Linked DNA regions of Homo sapiens. The protein of the gene in region 1 interacts with the protein of each later gene in a pairwise test. Each region holds a gene or a part of one and is shown in the gene's direction. Other genes may lie near its edges. The genes, in order: TBL1XR1 and ARL2.

Evidence for each region.
Region 2: the proteins of TBL1XR1 (region 1) and ARL2 interact in binary tests that used the Homo sapiens proteins (3 or more experiments, as listed by UniProt).

Annotation. Positions count from the first base shown.
Region 1 is NC_000003.12:177,190,760-177,194,671, reverse strand, and holds part of TBL1XR1 (F-box-like/WD repeat-containing protein TBL1XR1), read left to right. Parts: intron 1-3,912. UniProt on the Homo sapiens protein: F-box-like protein involved in the recruitment of the ubiquitin/19S proteasome complex to nuclear receptor-regulated transcription units. Plays an essential role in transcription activation mediated by nuclear receptors.
Region 2 is NC_000011.10:65,017,115-65,021,026, forward strand, and holds part of ARL2 (ADP-ribosylation factor-like protein 2), read left to right. Parts: intron 1-1,249; coding exon 1,250-1,360; intron 1,361-1,390; exon of another isoform or gene 1,391-1,456; coding exon 1,457-1,619; intron 1,620-3,304; coding exon 3,305-3,385; intron 3,386-3,912. UniProt on the Homo sapiens protein: Small GTP-binding protein which cycles between an inactive GDP-bound and an active GTP-bound form, and the rate of cycling is regulated by guanine nucleotide exchange factors (GEF) and GTPase-activating proteins (GAP).

The DNA of each region.
Region 1 (3,912 bases):
TAAAAGGAAATGTATTAATAGACCTTTTGAACATCAACTTGTTGATTAAATCTATCAGTGCAGTATATATACAACCTTGTCAGACGAGTAGCTGACAAAGGAATCTCCCTAGTACAACTTGTAGCAGTACTATTATAAAGAATTCCTGACTTGACACATTTTGATGAAGTTGGTTGAAATAATTTGTTGGGTTTGTTCAATTTTTGGTGTCATTTATATAAAAAGAATAAAGAAGAATGTGAATGGTAGGAAGTCAGGGGAGAGGCATGGCAGAAACATTGGTATTCACTAGAACTTGTATTTTTCTAGTGCATGTGAATTGGACTCATTTCACAAATAACATTTACAGTATAAGTCACTGAAATGCAAAAAAGGAAAGCAGCTAACACGAGACATTTATACTTTATGCTCAGACATTCTGGTAGTAGAGGAGGGCTAGGACCCTAGAGCTGTGTAGTAAAGAATTGTTGAGTATCGTTCAGTTTAGGTACCACGAAGGTGGTATCTCCTGCTCTGCCACCAATAGAAACTTGAAGTTAAAAAGAAAAGACTCTGAGAGCGCTGATGCTGGAGAGATTTGGCTGTTTACCCCTCTGGGATTGGATTCGGTAAGAGTGCAATTAATTGCCCTGTAACCATAGAGCCAGAGGAGAGGGACTAGGTGCTCCGGGCTATGCTCTAGGAGGTGTGAGGTGCTTTCTATGCTGTTTATACCCTAGGCTAATCCTATGAGGTAGATAGTGTTGGGCTTTTTTTGTGGATGATGAAACAGAGATGCAAAGAAGTTAATTCCCTTGTTCAAGGCCACAAAATTATTAAATGAACACTAGGATTCAAACCTGGGTCTGTCTTAGATGACTGAATCTGCGGAATTTTCCCAGCTGTTTTGTTAGTCTTGATCCGTGTAGATCATCCTTCCAAAAACTTGTGTTTCTAATCAAGTTTATGATCTATAGTTGAGCGTCTGTACTAAATGGGTCGAGTGATTACATGGGTAAATGAAATTGATAGAACTCATATCATTGTGCTGAATTCCCTAGCACCATTTAATAAGATGCAGTCTTGCTGGGTGCAGTGGCTCACGCCTGTAATCCAAGCACTTTGGAAGGCCAAGGCGGGCGGATCACGAGGTCAAGAGATTGAGACCATCTTGGCCAGCATGGTGAATCCCCGTCTCTACTAAAAATACACAAATTAGCTGGGCGTGGTGGCGGGTACCTGTAGTCCCAGCTACTCGGGAGGCTGAGGTGGGAGAATCGCTTGAACCCAGGAGGTGGAGGTTGCAGTGAGCCAAGATCGCGCCATTGCACTCCAGCCTGGGCGATAGAGGGAGACACCCTCTCAAAAACAAACAAACAAAAAATTTGTGTAAGAAAAATCATTGAAGTCTTTGTGTTGTAGCATAGTGGTTAAAGTGAGTTCAAACTCAGGCTCTATCCTTTACTAGCTGTGATGTTGGGGTAGTAGCTCCTCATACGTTTTATTTATTTTTTAAAATTTTATTTTATTTTATTTTTTTGAGACGGAGTTTCGCTCTGTTGCCCAGGCTGGAGTGCAGTGGCGCGATCTCGGCTCACTGCAACCTCCGCCTCCTGGGTTCAAGTGATTCTCCTGCCTCAGCCTCCCAAGTAGCTGGGATTACAGGTGCTTGCCACCACTCCCGGCTAATTTTTGTGTTTTTAGTAGAGATGGGGTTTCAGCATGTTGGCCAGGCTGGTCTCGAACTCCTGACCTCAGGTAACGTGCCTGCCTCGGCCTCCCAAAGGGCTGGGATTATAGGCATGAGCCACATTGCGCCTGGCCCTAATGTGTTTGTTTCTTCATCAGTGTAAGGGGACAGTCAACTTTCATAGAGTTAAGAAGATCCAGTTAGTGTGTGAGAGGTACTTAGAACAATGGTTGACATTCTAAGCATCCTGTAAGTGTAAGTTGCTCCTGATAGGTTTGATTTTTGAAGTTTGTTTCTTTGTATTACATTTTATTTGCTTGTTATTTATTTTAGTAGGGGCATAATGTCATAGGAAGGATTTGATAGCTCCATTTCCTAAGTAACCCATTTGAAGTAAACTTAGCTTGGTTTTTTTTACTCTTAAAAAGTTGTGGTTTAAGGCTTACATATACTATGAATAATTTACATGATTGGTGTAGGTACGGTGGTGGATCTTTTTTGCATGCCTTTGTTGCTATTCTGTCATCTGGGTTGGACTTCTTAAGCCTACTTGCACCATTTGAAACATTTTTCAACTTACTTTCTTTCTTTTTTTTTTTTTTTTGAGATAAAGTCTCACTTTGTTTGTTGCCCAGGTTGGAGTGCAGGTTGGAGTGCAATGGCGCGATCTCCTCTTACTGCAACCTCGCGCCTCCTGGGTTCAAGCGATTCTCCTGCCTCAGCCTCCTAGCTGGGATTATAGGCATGCGCCACCACGCCCAGCTAATTTTTGTATTTTTAGTAGAGACGGGGTTTCACCATGTGGTCTCCATCTCTTGACCTTGTGATCTGCCCGCTTTGGCCTCCCAAAGTGCTGGGATTACAGGCGTGAGCCACCGCGCCCAGCTTCAACTCTTTTTTTTTTTTTTTTGAGACAGAGTCTTGCTCTGTCACCCATGCTGGAGTGCAATGGTGCGATCTCGGCTCACTGCAACCTCTGCCTCCCGGGTTCAAGCGATTCCCCTACCTCAGCCTCCCAAGTAGCTGGGATTACAGGCGCCTGTCACTTGCCTGGCTAATTTCTTGTATCTTTAGTAGAGATGGGGTTTCACCATGTTGGTCAGGCTGGTCTCGAACTCCTGACCGCCCGTCTCGGCCTCCCAAAGTGCTGGGATTACAGGCATGAGCCACCGTGCCAGGCAAACTCTTTAAATACAAAGGGAACTCTTTCAAGGTTTGGGTCCAGCAGAACCTAGGGTCTGCCTTTTAGGCTGTAGTGATTACTTTGGGTAGGTGGTTTTATTTTATTTTTCCTGACCACTTTTTATCTGTGTATTCTTTTCCGTATTATCAGATGCTGTCTAGATAGTTGTCCTTAGAAGTTCAGTTCCTCTATGAGCCTTATCTTATGTTCACTTCCCATTTTTAACCATACTTAATTTAGCACTAGTGTTCACTTTGCTAATAGTCAAAAGTTCTATGTATCAGGACTATACAGGTGCTTTGACAAGTACTGTGACAGTCTGAGTGCTGATGCCTGAATTTAACAGTGAGAAAATTGAGGCTCAGGTAGTAGGGGACAGAGCAGGAATTTAGGCCCAGTTTGTGTGAATTCTAGGCCAGTGTTGTTACCTAGCAGTCTGTCTTCTCAATGAATGAATGGTTGTAGGTCTGGATTATTAAGTTTTTATTTGGTTGCCCTGAGCAACCTTTCTTATTCATTTTATCTTCTGTAACTACTGACAGTGTAATTTATTTAAAGTACTGGTTTCATCTTGTCAGTTCCCCTGCTGGAGAACCCATAATGGATTCTCTTTGCCAACTGGATTGAATTTGTATGCTTCAGTCTGGCTTTTAAGAAGGTTCCATTCTACCTATTCAGCTTTATTTCTCACTCTTAGTTGGGATTCTTGCCGGCCTCTCAAATACGGTAGTTTTTGCCATACTCACTACTTTGCTTTTGTGCATGCTGTTGTTCCCTTTGTCCTTCTTATAGCCTAGTTTCAGTCCCCCTTCTTCCATGAATCCTTTTCTGGCCATCCTGACTCAGGATATTTCTTCTCTGAGATTCCATTGCACTTAATGAAGATCACAAATCCCATAACTGTTTATTGTTTTGTTGCCCCAACTACGATGTTTCTTGAACGGATGGACCTTTTTCCTTCCAGCATTTGGCAGAGTTCTTAATACCATTTTCATGTTAAAATGGATTGTGAGGGCCTGTGTTAAAATGGGAGCAGTGACAGCCCTGTTCCACTGTAATG
Region 2 (3,912 bases), on another chromosome or scaffold:
CAACTATTTTGAGATTTCCTGTAAAAGGAAAGATATAAATGAATAACTAGATGGGGCAGAGAGATCAAGGGCTTTGTTTGCTCTTTTTTTTTTTTTAATCAGACGGGGTCTCGCTGAGTCGCCCAGGCTGGAGTACAGTGGTGTGATCTCGGCTCATTGCAACCTCTGCCTGCCGGGTTCAAGCAATTCTCCTGTCTCAGCCTCCCGAGTAGCTGGGACTATAGGGGCCCGCCACCACGCCTGGCTGATTTTTGTAGTTTTAGTAGAGATGGGGTTTCACCTTGTTGGTCAGGCTGGTTTCGAACTCCTGACCTCAGATGATCCACCCACCTTGGCCTCCCAAAGTGCTGGGATTACAGGTGTGAGCCACCGCGCCCGGCCTATTTGCTCTTTTTAAGGTGGGAGAAAGAACGGCAAGCTCATCAGCCAGTGGGAATGATCAAGAGGGGAAGGAAACATGGATGATGGCTTGGGGGCAGGGGGTCATCAGCGGCTAGGTTCCAGGGGCTAAGGCTGGGCCTCAGGGGAAATGCCCTCCTCACCCCTCTCCTGGGCCTAGGTCATTTGCCCCAGCTCCGATGAGCAGGGAAAGGTGGTCGAGTCCAGGACCCGCCCACCCCACCATGCCCAACTGAGCTGCAGTGTTGGGAAGATAGAGGAGGGTGGTTCCTTCCACAGGTAAGCACACCCATTAATTTGCACTGTGCAGTAGCAGGTCTGGAATATTCCAGAAACAAATGAGGGTGGCTGCCTCCAGATATTTGTTCTTACCTTAGTTCTTCAAAAAGCTTGCTCCTTGTATTTTGGGTCTCAGCTCCAGACACCTCAGAGAGGCCTTCCCCGGCACCTGAGCTGAAAGAGCCTCCTCCGATGGCCCTCTTGGAAAGCCTCTCTGTTGTGTTGATGGCGCTAGCCGGGATCTGGCAGGGCCTTCTTTTCTCATTTGTTTGTACTTTATTGACTGTCTTCCCGCTAGAGTGTAAGCTTCCTAAGGGCAGGGCTTTGTCCTCTAGCACCCAGAAGAGGGTCTGGCACATAGTAGGTGTTCAACAAATTAAGGAGCCTTTGGTCAGTAGAGATGATATTTATAATTTGATACTTTCATATTTATTGTGGGCCGATTATGGTCAGGCATGTGCTCAACTCAGTTTGATACATGGTGGGAAATAATGAGTCCCCTAAGGGGCTCTGCAACAATGTCACCACCTGGCAGAGAACAGGGACTTCTCCTTAACCTGCTGCGCCCCAGTGGCCTGGACAATGCTGGAAAGACAACCATCCTGAAGAAGTTCAATGGGGAGGACATCGACACCATCTCCCCAACGCTGGGCTTCAACATCAAGACCCTGGAGCACCGAGGGTGAGCAGGGGCCCCATGGGAGGGCCAGCCCAGAGCAGGGCAGGGAAGGTGGGAGAGGGGCCCAGCTGACCCTCCTGTCACCCGCTCCTTGCCCAGATTCAAGCTGAACATCTGGGATGTGGGTGGCCAGAAGTCCCTGCGGTCCTACTGGCGGAACTACTTTGAGAGCACCGATGGCCTCATCTGGGTAGTGGACAGCGCAGACCGCCAGCGCATGCAGGACTGCCAGCGGGAGCTCCAGAGCCTGCTGGTGGAGGAGGTGGGCAGCTCCTACCCTTTGTGTACATGTATGGACGTGTGGCTGCCTTCTCAGCAGATGCCCAGAGGGGCCCGTGGCCCCAGAGGGAAACCAGAGGCAGGATCCCTTCCTTCTCTGGGCCCCCACCATGGGAGGCCCATGGTGCCAGAGGCAGGACACATGCTGTGGACTGAGATTGAGTTAACGTCCCTGTGGTGTTACTACGTCACTACCCTGAGCATCAGTTTCTATGCCTTGAAATGGTGATGATGACACCCACATCACTGGGCTTTAGGGAGGATAACCCAAGGCCAGTATGAAGCTTCGAGAGGCCATGGAGCCTGGCTCAAGAGTCTGACTCTTTGCTGTGTGACCTCAGCTGGGGGTGGTGGCACGCACCTATAGTCCTAGCTACTCTGGAGGCTCAGACAGGAGGATCAGTTGAGCCCAGGAGGTTGAGGCTGCAGTGAGCTGTGATCGTGCCACTGCACTCCAGCCTCCTGGGCGACAGAGCAAGACCCTGTCTCAAAAAAAAAAAAAAAGGAAGGGGCCAGGTGCGGTGGCTCACGCCTGTAATCCCAGCACTTTGGGAGGCTGAAGCGGGCGGATCACGAGGTCAGGAGATCGAGACCGTCCTGGCTAACATGGTGAAACCCCGTGTCTACTAAAAATACAAAAAATTAGCCAGGCATGGTGGCGGGCGCCTGTAGTCCCAGCTACTCAGGAGGCTGAGGCAGGAAAATGGCGTGAACCTGGGAGGCGGAGCTTGCAGTGAGCCGAGATTGTGCCACTGCACTCCAGCCTGGGCAACAGAGTGAGACTCCGTCTCAAAAAAAAAAAAGAAGGACACTTGCAAAGATAGTACAGAGGTCAGAGGTCCCCCATATACCCTTTACCTTGCTTCCCCATCTTACCTAACCGTGGCCTGTCCAAACTAATAAATCAACACTGGTGAATTACTATTATCTTAATTACAGATTTTATTTGAATTTCACGTTTTTCCACTAATATACTTTTTGTGTTCCAATGTTTGATTCAGGCTACAAAATTGCATTTAGTTGAAAATGAGGACACTTGTGAGAGTGAAAGGGGGGATTCTGCAGGCAGAGTGGGGACTGTCCTGGGCACACCGCACACATCTCCTATGTGGGTGGAGCAGGTCAGATGAGATCAGGGCCGTCAAATGCTGGTCAAGGCAGGTCAAGGCCCAAGGGTTAGACCCGTCCACCCACATCTCTCCCAATCACAGACACATATGTGGAAACAACTAGAATCAGAGGTGGACAGTGAGGCCTGTCGGGAGTGGAACGGTTAAAGGGCTGTGTGAACCCAGAAGAGGGAGAGTTCACATCCTCTGTGCATGTCTGGTCATCAGATTGGAGCAGTCTAGAACCACGGAGAGCTCAGGGATCATCTTATGCAACACCCCTCCCTGTTCATGGAAGAGGAAGCTGGAGCATGGGGACAGCGGTGTCCCCTGGGTGGTGGTTGGCTGGAACCAGAACCCTGGCCCAGGGCTGCTCCATTCATGTGGGCCAGCCTTGATGGCTACGTCCACAAACTCACTCCTGGGCCTCTCCCACCACCACGGGGCCTCACCTTGATCTTCCAGGTCGATCCTTCACCCCAGATGCTCTGGGCCATTAGAGGAGGGGTCAGGCTGTCCTCTGAGTCCCCACCCCACCCCTCTATCTTTTCTCCCCCAGCGCCTGGCCGGAGCAACCCTCCTCATCTTTGCTAATAAGCAGGACCTGCCTGGAGCACTGTCCTCTAACGCCATCCGCGAGGTGAGTCCAGGCCCCGGGACAGGCTCGCTGAGGGAAAGGGGCATACATTTATTTATTTTAAAAGCATTTATTAAAAATAACCAAAAAGGCTGGGTGCAGTGGCTCACGCCTGTAATACCAGCACTTTGGGAGGCCAAGGCGAGTGGATCACCTGAGGTCAGGAGTTCGAGACCAGCCTGACCAACATGATGAAACCCCGTCTGTACTAAAAATACAAAAATTAGCTGGGTGCAGTGGCGTGCGCCTGTAAGCCCAGCTACTCAGGAGGCTGAGACAGGAGAATCGCTTGAACCCAGGACGTGGAGGTTGCAGTGAGCCAAGATTGCGCCATTGTACTCTAGCCTGTGGGAAAAGAGTGAGACTTCGTCTCAAAAAAAAAAAAAAAAAGAAAGAAGTAAAATAATAATAAGAAAAGCATTTATTAGCCTAGCCCTGCTAGGTGGCAGGACCTATGCAGGGCACTGGGGATCCAGTGATTAATAAGGCATGGGGTGGCCCACAGCCTGGGGAAGGCAGAGCTGCGCATG